Homo sapiens: one gene and its partners. The protein of the gene in region 3 purifies or fractionates together with the protein of the main gene of each other region. This does not show direct contact. Each region holds a gene or a part of one and is shown on either strand. Other genes may lie near its edges.

Region 1 (3,500 bases), on a different chromosome or scaffold from region 3:
CACATATCCTTCTAAAACCTAGTTTTTACAGTGAGACATGTTCCATTCCTGTTACAGAGTCCCTAGACTATGAATCTGGGCCAGGTCTGTACATTAGCTAGAACTGCTCTGTTGAAATCTACTTCCCAAACCCCCACATGTGCTACCAATTCCTCATTCCTCAGTTCTTTCATTCCTGGAAGCGGAAAGCTTATTCAGATGTGTCATCCTACTGTATTTAAGATATTTTGGATAATATCTTAAATCTTGGTCAAAAATAAAATTCTTCATTTTTAAGCATGCTTTGTAGCCAGCTGTTTATTTCTGTGACCTCCCTTTTCCTTCTCAGTCACAGCCCTTAAGGCAATGTCCTAACCTCCTGGTGTTTTGTTATCTGCTCTGGGTTAATCACGTAACAGTAGTGGTGGCTTCTCTAAAAAGCTGAAGGTTCTTATTCTTTTCCCTTGAGATTGCACACATTCATCTGCTAAAAGATAAGGGGAGGAAAAAAACTGTTAAAATGTTATGTGGGATTAGATAAACTATAAATTTATTTCCAGTTCAAAAATTGATTTTATATAATGAATATAAGAGGGACCTGTGAATTTGTGTTTAAATACTCTCACACTATACAGCTTTAAAAAAAAAAAAAAGCATATCCTTGAGTTTTTTTATTAAGGTTTAGAGATTACTAATCTTTCTTCAATTTAGCATTACTTGTTGCTTATTTAATATTTTTGCATCTCCTTAGAAGAGCTATACTTAGCCAAAAGGTGGAAACAACACAAATGTCCATTGACAGGTGAAGAGATAAACAAAATGTGGTATATATGTACAATGGGATATTATTCAGCCTTAAGAAGGAGTGAAATTTTGATATCTGCTACAACATGGATGAAACTTGGAAAATATTACCCTAAATGAGCCAAACATAAAAGGACAAATATTTTAGAATTTCACTTATATGAGGTACCTAGAATAGTGAAATTCATAGAGACAGAAAGTAAAACAGTGGGTGCTAGGATCTGATAGGGATAGGGAGAAAACAGATTGTTTAATGGTACAGAGTTTCAGTTTGGGGTGATAGAAAAGGCCTGGAAATGGATAGTGGTGTTGGGTTGCCCCACCATGTGTATGCACTTATTAGTGACATTTAACTGTACACTTAAGGATTGTTAAAATGGTAAATTTTATGTTACACATATTGTACCACAATAATAATAATAAAAAAAAGAGTTCTATACTCATGTGCCAAAGTTGCCTGCCAGCAAGTTACTGTCATCTGCATTGGTGGTTGGATGGATCAGTGAGTGTCACTGGATGGGCACCAAGGTGATGATGTCAGTGGCCTGCTTGCTTGGAGTTTTCCCTCCATTAGCAGCTATTGGAACTCAGAATGAGGAGAATGGAGCTGGAAATCCTGCTCAGTTTACTGTACATCTCATTAAAAGCAAATATTTAGCCACAGCTTTCTCTTAGAAACATTTACACATTGAAACCCATGCCTTCGGCCGATGGTGTTTCCTCCTCAAAATATTTTTTGGCTTGCTCCTCAGGTGAACTTGTTTTAACATTGCTCACCATCATCTACTACACAGATACAGGTGCAGTTATTGAAGTCCGTGGCTTCAGATTAAAAGCTCAAATTAAATCTTCAAGAACCTCAGATGCAGCCATGCATTGCTTAAAGACGTTTGGCCACTCCGGCAGCCGTAGATTGTTATTCGCTGTTGGCCTGGCTTCTTCCGAGAATGTACTTTTAACGTTATTTGCTAATAGTGCTCCCTCATCCTGTCTGCTGTCACAGTATACTGAAAGCTGCATCAGGTAAAGGCACATTAAACATGAATATGGGCTCTCCGTGATTGCTCCCAGGCCGTTCTCTTGATCTTATCATACCAGTGGCCATTATGTGCAATATTATTTCACTTTTCATTTTTCTTGCAGTTTCACCACTCTGATTGCCTTTCAACCTGGCTACTTCATTTCATTGCTACTAACTACCTCATCTTCAGTCAAAAGCCTGAATTTCAGGATCTTTCAGGTAGATTGCTAATTTCTGTTTTGAAAAGAAAACTTTATGTTCTTTGTTCTTAGATTTGAGACATAAGTTGTAGAAGTAGTACTTTTAGCAAAATAAGAATAGTCAATGTAATAAATTTCTTGTAAATTATGCAGTGTGGTAATTGAGGAAACAATTTATAGTCACCTGTGTTACATAAGTGCCTTAACCTGTGTTACACAAGAAGTTTTCTAATGATTATTTTATAGCTCCATCCGTTTTTAAATGCATTTTCTTTCCCTGAAATAGATAAGGTGACAAAATGTGTCCTCAGGTGACATTTGGTTGTGAAAAGTGATATCTTAGTTCTAACTACCTAAGTCAGCAGCAAAGTTTAAACAGTACAGATTTAAAAATTTTTTATAAAGGAATTTAACTCTTGTTAACTATATTATATTTAGCTTTATTGTACTGGATATCTGTATTTACTGAGTATACCTATATGGGAGTCCCTTATATTACTTTGGAATAACAGTTTTTCATATATAAAAAATGTTGTGAAACTTACTGGGAGTGTATGTAATATGCTTTCTAAGGTAAATTATAAAAATTAAAACCAAAGTGTGAACTACTGAGTACTGCATAAAAAGAAAAAAATGAAAATATAATAGTTGTCAGAATAGACAGTTTAGATGCAGTGGTTTGCTCATGTTATTATCTAGCATAGACTCAAGGAAAATTTGAGCTAAAAAGAAAAGGAAGTGAAAGATTACCTGATCAAGGAGTTTCACAATCTGGACAAATAAATCTCCGTGGAGATAACTGAAGTGTCTTCTAGGGTGGGGGACAGAAAGTAGGGAGTGGGTGAGGAGAAGGAGAGAGAGAGGGAGTAAGGGAAAGGGAAAGAGAAGGCTAAAATTTACAGTTCTTGGACTCTTCCCTCCCTCCTTCAGTCATAGTAGTTCCACTTTATCTGTTTCATATCTTGAGTTCTACCTAAAATTTTACTTCGTAAAAAAGACTCTGCTGGTAAAAGATATAAAAATCATATGGTCAAGATGGTGATTCCACCTCGGTGTAATCCCAGCCAACTTGGGAGGCTGAGGCTGAAGGATCACTTGAACCCAGGAGTTTGAGTCCAGCCTGAGCAACATAACGAGACTTCTGTCTCTAAAAGAAAAAAGAGTAAAAATCTCTTGTTTTTATTCAGCTACTTGTGCAGTTAAAGAAAACCCAGGAACACACAATCCGTTTTTGGGAGATGTATTCAGCCAGTCAACAAACATTATATGTCTATTAGGAGCCTCCTTATATAAGTCAACTATTAGTACAGTAGAGAAGCATAATCACATCAAAACAAAACAACAGTTATTTATTAGCTATGTACTTTGTGCAAGGAAAAAACAGTCAGTTCATAAAGATAAGGCTTGTGTATGCTTGCTGTCAGAAGGAACATTCTTCTATAGTTATTTAAGTAGCTGCTTCTATAGTTATTTAAGAAGCTTGCTAAAAGTTAAAT
Region 2 (3,500 bases), on a different chromosome or scaffold from region 3:
ATATGAAAATGTATTTCTGTACCTTATGATGGGAGGTTATATAAATAGTTTGATTTTCTTTTTCCTATAAAATTGGTCATATGCAGAGAGAAATATTTAGTATTTTAAAAATGATACAAAGCCGCAATTATGACCTGGTGATTTATTTTAATAGGGTCAAGAATTTGCTCCAAAAAGTGTGGCAATAATTGGTCATTCTATGGGTGGCCTTGTTGCAAGAGCATTGCTTACACTGAAAAATTTTAAGCATGATCTGATAAATCTTCTTATTACACAAGCCACACCTCATGTTGCTCCTGTGATGCCATTAGATCGTTTCATTACAGGTGAGTACTGTTACATGAACATTAACCTCCCCATTGTTATTTAAGATTAAATAAATCAATCTCTGTGGCTATTCCCCTAGGAGTATGCTACAGATTTATCCATGTATGAAGCAACTCAGTTGCAAATCAGCACCTCCAATTCTGAGTGTCTGTCTCTTTATATTATTGAACTTAGGCTTATAATTGAAACTACTGTTAAGTTTTGTCTGTCCATAGCATCTTAACATGGTTGACATGTGTTTTATAATTTCTAGGCACTAGGGCTTCCGTTTAGTTTTTTTTTTTTTTTTTTTTTTTTTTTAAAGACAGGGTCTTGCTCTTTCTCCCAGGCTGGAGTGCAGTGGTGCAATCTCAGCTCACTGCAACCTCCACCTCTCAGGTTCAAGCGATTCTCGTGCTTCAGCCTTCCAAGTATCTGGGATTTTTGCCGTATTGCCCAGGCTGGTCTTGAACTGCTGACCTCAAGTGATCTGCCTATCTCAGCCTCCCAAAGTGCTGGGATTACAGGCATAAGCCACCATGCCTGGCCAGTTTAGTTATTTTTGAGGATGGTACCCTGTCTCTTAAGATGTGTTTAAACTTCCTATGCTTTGTTAACTGTTTTAGGACTGTATCCAAAATAAGCTTATATTTAAGTAAGATAGTAGCAATGTCTAGTTTTTAAGTACAAAGGTATGCTAACACTTTATATAATGAGATATAATTCCTAATATTTATTGAGCTCTTAGTATGTTATGGATTTTAAAGACTTCATGTGATGTGTTACCACACTTAATCCTTACTGCAGTCCCATGAGGTAGGCACCATTATTATCCTCATGTTTATGGATAGAAAAAGGCCAAGATAACGTTCTTGCCCAGAGTCATGTGGCAAGAAAGTAGTGAAACCAGTATTTGACCCTGGCAAAATTGCTTCTGGGCTTGTGCTCTTAACCTTTGCATGCTGTACTGCCTCTTAATTGAAGTACATTAACATAGGAAATAAAACCGTAGATAATACTATAATCTTGCAGGAATTTTGAATGAAAAGTAGGAGTTTGTGATTGACATCGTCTAATCAAATAGTGATAACGTCACAGAATAAGAATTAAATGTCTGTTATCTCAACTTATTGTTAAAAAAAGCCAGAGATTATCCTCACTGCTTATAGGAATATTATATGAGTAGATGAAAATCTTTAGAAAGAATTCTTTCTGGTTAGTAAATGTATATAGCTTCTTACCTATAAAAATTTGCATTATCTTAATTTTTTTTTTTTTTTTTTTTTTTTTTTTTTATTATACTCTAAGTTTTAGGGTACATGTGCACATTGTGCAGGTTAGTTACATATGTATACATGTGCCATGCTGGTGCGCTGCACCCACTAATGTGTCATCTAGCATTAGGTATATCTCCCAATGCTATCCCTCCCCCCTCCCCCGACCCCACCACAGTCCCCAGAGTGTGATATTCCCCTTCCTGTGTCCATGTGATCTCATTGTTCAATTCCCACCTATGAGTGAGAATATGCGGTGTTTGGTTTTTTGTTCTTGCGATAGTTTACTGAGAATGATGGTTTCCAATTTCATCCATGTCCCTACAAAGGATATGAACTCATCATTTTTTATGGCTGCATAGTATTCCATGGTGTATATGTGCCACATTTTCTTAATCCAGTCTATCATTGTTGGACATTTGGGTTGGTTCCAAGTCTTTGCTATTGTGAATAGTGCCTCAATAAACATACGTGTGCATGTGTCTTTATAGCAGCATGATTTATACTCATTTGGGTATATACCCAGTAATGGGATGGCTGGGTCAAATGGTATTTCTAGTTCTAGATCCCTGAGGAATCGCCACACTGACTTCCACAATGGTTGAACTAGTTTACAGTCCCACCAACAGTGTAAAAGTGTTCCTATTTCTCCGCATCCTCTCCAGCACCTGTTGTTTCCTGACTTTTTAATGATTGCCATTCTAACTGGTGTGAGATGATATCTCATAGTGGTTTTGATTTGCATTTCTCTGATGGCCAGTGATGATGAGCATTTCTTCATGTGTTTTTTGGCTGCATAAATGTCTTCTTTTGAGAAGTGTCTGTTCATGTCCTTCGCCCACTTTTTGATGGGGTTGTTTGTTTTTTTCTTGTAAATTTGTTTGAGTTCATTGTAGATTCTGGATATTAGCCCTTTGTCAGATGAGTAGGTTGCGAAAATTTTCTCCCATGTTGTAGGTTGCCTGTTCACTCTGATGGTAGTTTCTTTTGCTGTGCAGAAGCTCTTTAGTTTAATTAGATCCCATTTGTCAATTTTGTCTTTTGTTGCCATTGCTTTTGGTGTTTTGGACATGAAGTCCTTGCCCACGCCTATGTCCTGAATGGTAATGCCTAGGTTTTCTTCTAGGGTTTTTATGGTTTTAGGTTTAACGTTTAAATCTTTAATCCATCTTGAATTGATTTTTGTATAAGGTGTAAGGAAGGGATCCAGTTTCAGCTTTCTACATATGGCTAGCCAGTTTTCCCAGCACCATTTATTAAATAGGGAATCCTTTCCCCATTGCTTGTTTTTGTCAGGTTTGTCAAAGATCAGATAGTTGTAGATATGCGGCATTATTTCTGAGGGCTCTGTTCTGTTCCATTGATCTATATCTCTGTTTTGGTACCAGTACCATGCTGTTTTGGTTACTGTAGCCTTGTAGTATAGTTTGAAGTCAGGTAGTGTGATGCCTCCAGCTTTGTTCTTTTGGCTTAGGATTGACTTGGCAATGCGGGCTCTTTTTTGGTTCCATATGAACTTTAAAGTAGTTTTTTCCAATTCTGTGAAGAAAGTCATTGGTAGCTTGATGGGGATGGCATTGAATCTGTAAATTACCTTGGGCAGTATGGCCATTTTCACGATATTGATTCTTCCTACCCATGAGCATGGAATGTTCTTCCATTTGTTTGTGTCCTCTTTTATTTCCTTGAGCAGTGGTTTGTAGTTCTCCTTGAAGAGGTCCTTCACATCCCTTGTAATTTGGATTCCTAGGTATTTTATTCTCTTTGAAGCAATTGTGAATGGGAGTTCACCCATGATTTGGCTCTCTGTTTGTCTGTTGTTGGTGTATAAGAATGCTTGTGATTTTTGTACATTGATTTTGTATCCTGAGACTTTGCTGAAGTTGCTTATCAGCTTAAGGAGATTTTGGGCTGAGACGA
Region 3 (3,500 bases):
TCAGAATTCTCTTCATTCTTCCTATGCCCCATGTCACCTTTTTCTGGCCTCCAGAGGGTGCTCCAGGAGCATCACACTGCTATTCCCCAAAGACTGCTTTTTTCTTCTCTCTCTCTCTCTTTTTTTTTTTAAGTTACTGCAGTATTCTGGGCAATCTACTGGAAGAACAGAGTCCCGATTCCATACATGTTAGCTGCCTCAACTGGAGTTTGTTTTCCAGCTGGACCACATAGCCCTAATTCATTAAGTATTCTAAATTAGAATATTTTAAAACATTATTCTGATGATGTTGATGCAGTGGTTAGCTTGCAAGGGGACATCTGTCAGATTAATTCCCTCTAGGAATTTCCCCCAAGAGAATCAAGCATCTTTAAATACCTTCCAATCACGCCTTACAACAGCTCCCTCCCACTGAAGTGCACATGGTACCCACAAAGAGATTTAGTGCTATTTAAGAGTTTCACTCTGGCATTGGAAAACTATAGGTGAAAGCATCAAAGTTGGACAACAGATCTTTACTAACACATTTGTTTTCATCTCTTCCTATCTCTCTGTTTCCTCAACCCAGGGGCAACAAATGTTTAGGAGCCCCACTTTGATTGAGTGCACATTTTTGAACACAGGTTTGAGTGACTAATTCTTGTGGATCATGGGCTGATTTTATTTATGTACTTTTTTTGAGACGGAGTCTCACTGTGTCACCCAGGCTGGAGTGCAGTGGTGCCATCTCGACTCACTGCAAGCTCCGCCTCCCGGGTTCACGCCATTCTCCTGCCTCAGCCTCCCGAGTAGCTGGGACTACAGGCGCCCACCACCACGCCCGGCTGATTTTTTGTATTTCTAGTAGAGACGGGGTTTCACCGTGTTAGCCAGGATGGTCTCCATCTCCTGACCTCGTGATCCGCCCGCCTTGGCCTCCCAAAGTGCTGGGATTACAGGCGTGAGCCACCGCGCCCGGCGGGGCTGATATTTTAATATGGTCACACAGGCCTTGTTATTTATGGTTTACCTGCTTATGTTAATTCCACCCTGTACTTGTTATCTTTGACATGAGTTACTCTCAGGATATTACTCCCCTTCCCTTTTTAAAGTGTAATATTGTTCCCATTGTTTCTTGCTCCAAGAAATCTGTCGTTGATGGGAATAGTCTTTGACTGCCACAGTGCCCCGAACCTTTCATTCCACAGCTTTGATGGGCAGGGAGCTGCCTTCTCTGGGCAGCTGTGGAGTTTTACTTTCAATGATATGAGAGTCACAGAATGTTTTATTAGATTGAATCATATGAAATTGTCAGTTTTGTAGGTCATACCTGGCTGAATATTGTCCATGTCATACAGTTTAATATTTGGACTTTGAAAAAGTAATTTGACTTTACTTATTCTTTACATATTCTTTAAGTAATAATGACAACTTTGAAAAAGAATTATGTACGTTTTTGATAATTAAATAGGATTGAAGTAATACATAAAAGAAATCTGAGCTAGGGATAATTGAAGCAGTAACATTTTTTACAACCAATAAATCAGCTAAAATCATATCCATATTAAATGAATTTAGCATAAAATTAGAATGACAGAGCAACTAGCATTTTCCCTTGGTGAGAAAAGTAGTAAGTTTCCACCATAAAATATGACTCATTTTTATTTGACCTATTAGCAGATAGTTGTTATTGCACCTTATCTTAACCACCATTATTTCTACAGAGAGATTACAGAGCAATGAGTAGGAAATATGGAAGATTGCTGAATAATCCTGGCTTTAGTTATGGAGTAATATGAAAAAAGGAAAAGAAAACCTTTTGTTCACTTTCACAGTACTACATCAATGCAAGCTTTTTAGTAGTTTTAATGTATGAATTTTATCATCAGGTGAAAATGCATCTCATTATTAGATGGCCTATTTTATAAATAAAGTTCAAATTTCGATATAGCCAGTTTTTAAAACTGTATATGTTTATAACTCATCCCTTTGTTGCATATAATCTCCCAATTTTAGAGACTTACATTGCATTTTTAAAGGATAGCACAGTCTCTTTAGCAATCCCACAGGGAATCTAAAACCAGCCTTTACAAGGAGATGTCAAAATTCCAATTTGCAGTGATATTTTTGTCAAAACAAGTAACGTGTGTTATTACGTATAGTAAGTTAACACAATTTTTCATTTGTGTATCAAGTAGGCATTGGTTTTTGTTTTTTGGTTTTTGGTTTTTTTTGAGACTAAGTCTTGCTCTGTCACCCAGGCTGGAGTGCAGTGGTGCGATCTCAGCTCACTGCAAGCTCCCCCCACTGGGTTCATGCCATTCTCCTGCCTCAGCCTCCCAAGTAGCTGAGACTACAGGCGCCTGCCACCACACCCAGCTAATTTTTTTCGTATTTTTAGTAGAGACGGTGTTTCACTGTGTTAGCCAGGATGGTCTCGATCTCCTGACCTTGTGATTAACCCACCTCGGCCTCCCAAAGTGCTGGGATTACAGGCATGAGCCACTGCGCCCAGCAAGTAGGCATTGTTTTTGTGTGTACGTATCAAATCTGTTTTTATATCTTTTGGTATTTTATCTCTTTTCTGCCAACAGGGTGAAATGGAAGTACAGTATTGGGATTATGCACAACATTTTATTGTTTAAAATTATAGTATTCCTTTTCCATTCTGTTGTTTCAGTTGTTTAAAAATAAGTAACAAAAGAGAGGGGTCTGTCTTGAAGCCCATGAGATGGTAGATCTTTAGAAACAGTTATAATAGCAGTCATATTGAAACTGATTGTCATCTATTTCTGGGAAAAATATTGAAGGCTGGTATATTGTCCCCAGAAGGATTAGATGAAATACAGAAAATAGATTATGATTATAATTTTTTTTAGTGAGGTCACCTTGCTGTAGAGTTGGAACCTTCCCGGGGGATTGCTCATGCATTATCCATTTTGGGAAAGAGTAATACTTACAGGCATTATGGAAATGAGCGGGTAGGTTTGTCAAGAGGAAACCAATAATTTGAATACTGAGTTGAATGGAAAATGAAATACATGATTTTCCATATATTAAATTGAATAGAAATGGGAGACTTATGTCTTGAGGGTTTTTCTTTTCTTTTTTTGAAACATGTTGATGATATTGTGTGTTCCCAAGTGCCCTCAACCTGACAGGAAGGAGAAATGTCAATAGAAATAGTTACTTATTATATTTTGATATTTAGAAAGGAACAGTGGAGTTTTAAATGTTGTGCATATCATTTATGCCCCATCCAAAAGGATAGCGATCCACTTAAAAGAAGGCAGAAAAGACAAGGACCGCTATCGTTCTCCAGGAATCAACAGAAGCTAAGGGAGAGCGTAGAGTATAGTCCCTGTGGCCTCTACGGAGTCATCGCCTTCTCAGACTGAATCCACACAAGGCCGCCTTGACTGAAAGAGCCTCTACATTGGACTGTGCATGGCGTGGGGAAATGTGATTACTTGCAATATGCTACTGATTACAGAATAAATATTATGCATTCGGTTTTCACT
Region 4 (3,500 bases), on a different chromosome or scaffold from region 3:
AAATTTGTGTTCACCATGACCACAAAGCCATGCCATAGAGAAAAGATTTGTTGGTTTCGCTCCACTGTTGACAGGAAAACGTGGATTAGGGTTAGTCTTCATGGATCCAGTCGTGTATGCAATAAAGAAAGGCATTTACTACACAAAGTTCAGAGGACTTCGAAACCATTCTACACACAGTTTATTCACATCCTGATTATGATTTAGTTGTTGAAGGAAATAATTAAAATCATAAGTATAATCAGACTGTAGCCATCAAGTGTGTGTGTTTGTGTATATATATGTATATGTGTATGTATAATTTTTTTACTATGACAATGAGAGGAAATAGGCAGCAAATATGACTTTGCTTTCTACTGTGCTTTTTAAAGGCAGTTTTTATTATCAGCATGTAGTTTTATAATCATTGAAAAGTTAATGTCAAGATAAATACTTAGGAAAAAATATTGAATTTATCAATTGGTTCTAGTATAATCTTTAATGTTATAAATATATTAGTATACTGTGTTTTTCAAGTGCAATTTTGCTAAATGAGTCACAGCTTTTAAATCTGGAATATTATTAAGGATGGTGATCACAAATACCTTGAGAATTATTTTTGTGTCTAGGTTTAGCGACACCAGTAGACTTGAAGCTAAAATTGATACCCATTCTACAGCACATGCACCATGATGCAATCTTGGCTTCCAGTGCTCGTCAGCTTTTACAACAGCTGGTCACATCCTATCCGTCCACCAAAATGGTGATTGTGTCTTTGCACACTTTCACTCTGCTTGCAGCGTCATCTTTGGTTGATACACCTAAGCAGGTAATTTCAATTTTCTTTAAACTGCCTATCTTTGGTAAACTTACATATTAAATATATGATTAGAAATAAGAAAGTGGCCCACAAGTCTTGAGGACATTAAGGTTCTTTTCTCTAATAAAGGTCAGATTAATTTGCTTTTGCTTGCTTTTTTATTCTCTCTGTTCACAGTACTGATTGTTGGGAGCCCTTGAGGAAAATGAGATGTTATGGAGTACATGGCTGGGTGTGAAGTTGGCCGTATAAAAAAAAAAAAAGAAAGGATTGAGTATCTGTAAAATGCCAGGGCCTGTGCTAAAACTTTAAAGTTAAATGGTAGTATTTTACAAACATGGAGAAAGAGGCCCAAATGTGGGCACATAGCTAGTGAGTGACAGGGCTCTGATTTGAAGTGAGTCCTGTCCCTTTATAAGTTTCACTAAACTACACTGCATTTCTAATGATCATTTCAGTTACAGTATTGTTTATGGAGTGACTTATTTCCTTTATAGATTCAGCTTCTGTTGCAGTATTTGAAGAATGATCCCAGGAAGGCAGTAAAGAGACTTGCTATTCAAGATCTGAAATTACTTGCTAATAAAACACCACATACTTGGAGTAGGGAGAATATTCAGGTATGTAGAACTTGTAACATTTTATATAGAAAAAATAATATAACATTATAATATAGTAAAATGTTTTGCATTTTTATATTGTCTTTGTCATCTTCTAAGTGGTTGAATATGAAAAACTTCTAAAAGCATTGTTGATGTTTGTGGCAGTTATTTTATAAGTGGCACAATAAATACATAAAACTTCTATACTTCAATGTTTGTTTTAGTCAGTGAAACTTGCCACTCAGTTGCTTGTTCATTCTCCCATAGTGGCACTAAGGCTAATTGAGAAGCCCAATTACATTGGTTTGGTTTTTTTATTCTTGTATTTTTCAGTCAATTTGGGGAGAAAAATTTAGGGGCTGAATGTTATCTGTAATGGAGGTAGGGCTGGATGGGCAACTTGGGAAATATATTTCTCTCTTCCTGGAGAGCTGAAGACATTCCTAAGTCTTCTTTTGTAAACAGAAGAGCAGATCTCACTCTTTAGACTTTTAATGTGCATCTTTGACACCATCTCTTACCATCTGTTAGGTTAAATTAATATTTTATGTTTATTTTTTTCTCAAAATAGAACCCTGTTTGTTTACCCATTACCGATAGAAATAACACCATTTTGCAAATAATGCTATTTAAAATGGAACGGTAGTTTTTATCTCTCAGCTTCATCATGACTCCAGTGGATTAAAAATCTTTGAATTTCAGATTATTAAAACTAAACTGCTGTGTTTGTTTTTCTGTTTGTTTGTTTGTTGTTTTCTAAACATCTTTTAATTTACTATATTATGATTTGATAGTCACAGATATCCCAAGATAAGGGCAGTTGTTAAATCTGCATTTAATAGATAAGCAGTTAGGGTTCAGAGAGACTTAATATGCTTAAGAGAGCATCTTAAGAGAAGTAAATTAAGAATTTAATTAAGAGAGCTTCTGTCCTCTGATCCCTAGTCTTATTGCTTTTTCTACTAAATAATGCTATCTTTCCAAGAAGAGAATGTGCCCAGCCACTTTAGTCATTTTAGAGAATTTGTACAAAGAACCAAACCCAGTTATTTAGAAAGATGAGTGAGAAGCACAGTATTATTCCTTCTCATTTTTTTCTTATTGTGAGATAGATCATACATACAGAAAAGTATGTAAAATATATAAATAGTTTAAATACCTTTAAGTGAGAAAAGTATGTAAAATGTATAAATATTTTAAATACTTTTAAGTGAAAACCCATGCAACTACCATCCAGCTAGAAATAGAACATTACAGGATCACAGAACCCTGCCTCCTTCCCTTGCGTGGTCCTTCCTGGTTGAAACTTTACACCTTCCAAAAGCAAACCACCATTTTGACTTTCATGATAATAATTTCTTTGCTCTTCTTTTACCTTCTTCACATGTCTTCCTAAAGAATACTGTTTAGCTTTGTTTTTGTTTCTTTTGCTCAGCATTACACTGGTGAGACTCATCCATGTCTTTCCCCTTTAATTGTAATGTACTATCCCATTGTATGAATGTATCACAGTTTATTTGCTCTCGATGGGTTATTTCCGCATGGGCCTATTGCAAACAGTGCAGAACATTCTTCTGTTTGTCTCCCAGTTCACACACGCAAATTTCTTTAGAGTGTATACCTGGGAATGAAATTTCTGACTTACAGAAAATGCGTATCTTCAGTTTTAACAGATGATGTCAAACTGTTTTCCAAAGTCAATGAACCAGTTTACATTCCTGCTGTGTATGAGGGCGTCCATTAATCACATCCGTACCAACACATAGAATTATCAGACTTACGTTTTTTACCAGTTTAGAAGTTGTACTTTTTATGTGTAGCTCCTTGATTATTAAAGAAATTGAACACCTTTTTAATATGTTTATTGACCATTTGGATTTTCTCTTATGACATGGCTATTCAGGTCTCTTGCCTATTTTTCTGTTGATTCATAGTTATTTTTTATATATTTGGAATACTCATACTTTGTTAGTCCTTGACAATTCTATATAAATTTCAGAATCAGCTTGTCAAATTTAACAGTTTGATTGGGATTACACTGAATATAAAGATTAGTTTGTAAGAAATTGGTAACTTTATAATATTGTCTTCCAGTGCAT

What was found. Proteins that work in one complex are often made in the same cells at the same time.
Region 1: the proteins of NRG1 (region 3) and RHOBTB3 purify together in Homo sapiens (affinity purification with mass spectrometry; 3 studies listed by BioGRID and IntAct, with this or other methods). This does not show direct contact.
Region 2: the proteins of NRG1 (region 3) and PGAP1 purify together in Homo sapiens (affinity purification with mass spectrometry; 3 studies listed by BioGRID and IntAct, with this or other methods). This does not show direct contact.
Region 4: the proteins of NRG1 (region 3) and INTS7 purify together in Homo sapiens (affinity purification with mass spectrometry; 3 studies listed by BioGRID and IntAct, with this or other methods). This does not show direct contact.

What each region holds. Positions count from the first base shown.
Region 1 is NC_000005.10:95,786,836-95,790,335, forward strand, and holds part of RHOBTB3 (rho-related BTB domain-containing protein 3), read left to right. Parts: intron 1-1,926; coding exon 1,927-2,023; intron 2,024-3,500. UniProt on the Homo sapiens protein: Rab9-regulated ATPase required for endosome to Golgi transport. Involved in transport vesicle docking at the Golgi complex, possibly by participating in release M6PRBP1/TIP47 from vesicles to permit their efficient docking and fusion at the Golgi.
Region 2 is NC_000002.12:196,909,708-196,913,207, reverse strand, and holds part of PGAP1 (GPI inositol-deacylase), read left to right. Parts: intron 1-154; coding exon 155-326; intron 327-3,500.
Region 3 is NC_000008.11:32,554,811-32,558,310, forward strand, and holds part of NRG1 (pro-neuregulin-1, membrane-bound isoform isoform HRG-alpha proprotein), read left to right. Parts: intron 1-3,500. UniProt on the Homo sapiens protein: Direct ligand for ERBB3 and ERBB4 tyrosine kinase receptors. Concomitantly recruits ERBB1 and ERBB2 coreceptors, resulting in ligand-stimulated tyrosine phosphorylation and activation of the ERBB receptors.
Region 4 is NC_000001.11:212,004,558-212,008,057, reverse strand, and holds part of INTS7 (integrator complex subunit 7), read left to right. Parts: intron 1-608; coding exon 609-808; intron 809-1,296; coding exon 1,297-1,419; intron 1,420-3,500. UniProt on the Homo sapiens protein: Component of the integrator complex, a multiprotein complex that terminates RNA polymerase II (Pol II) transcription in the promoter-proximal region of genes.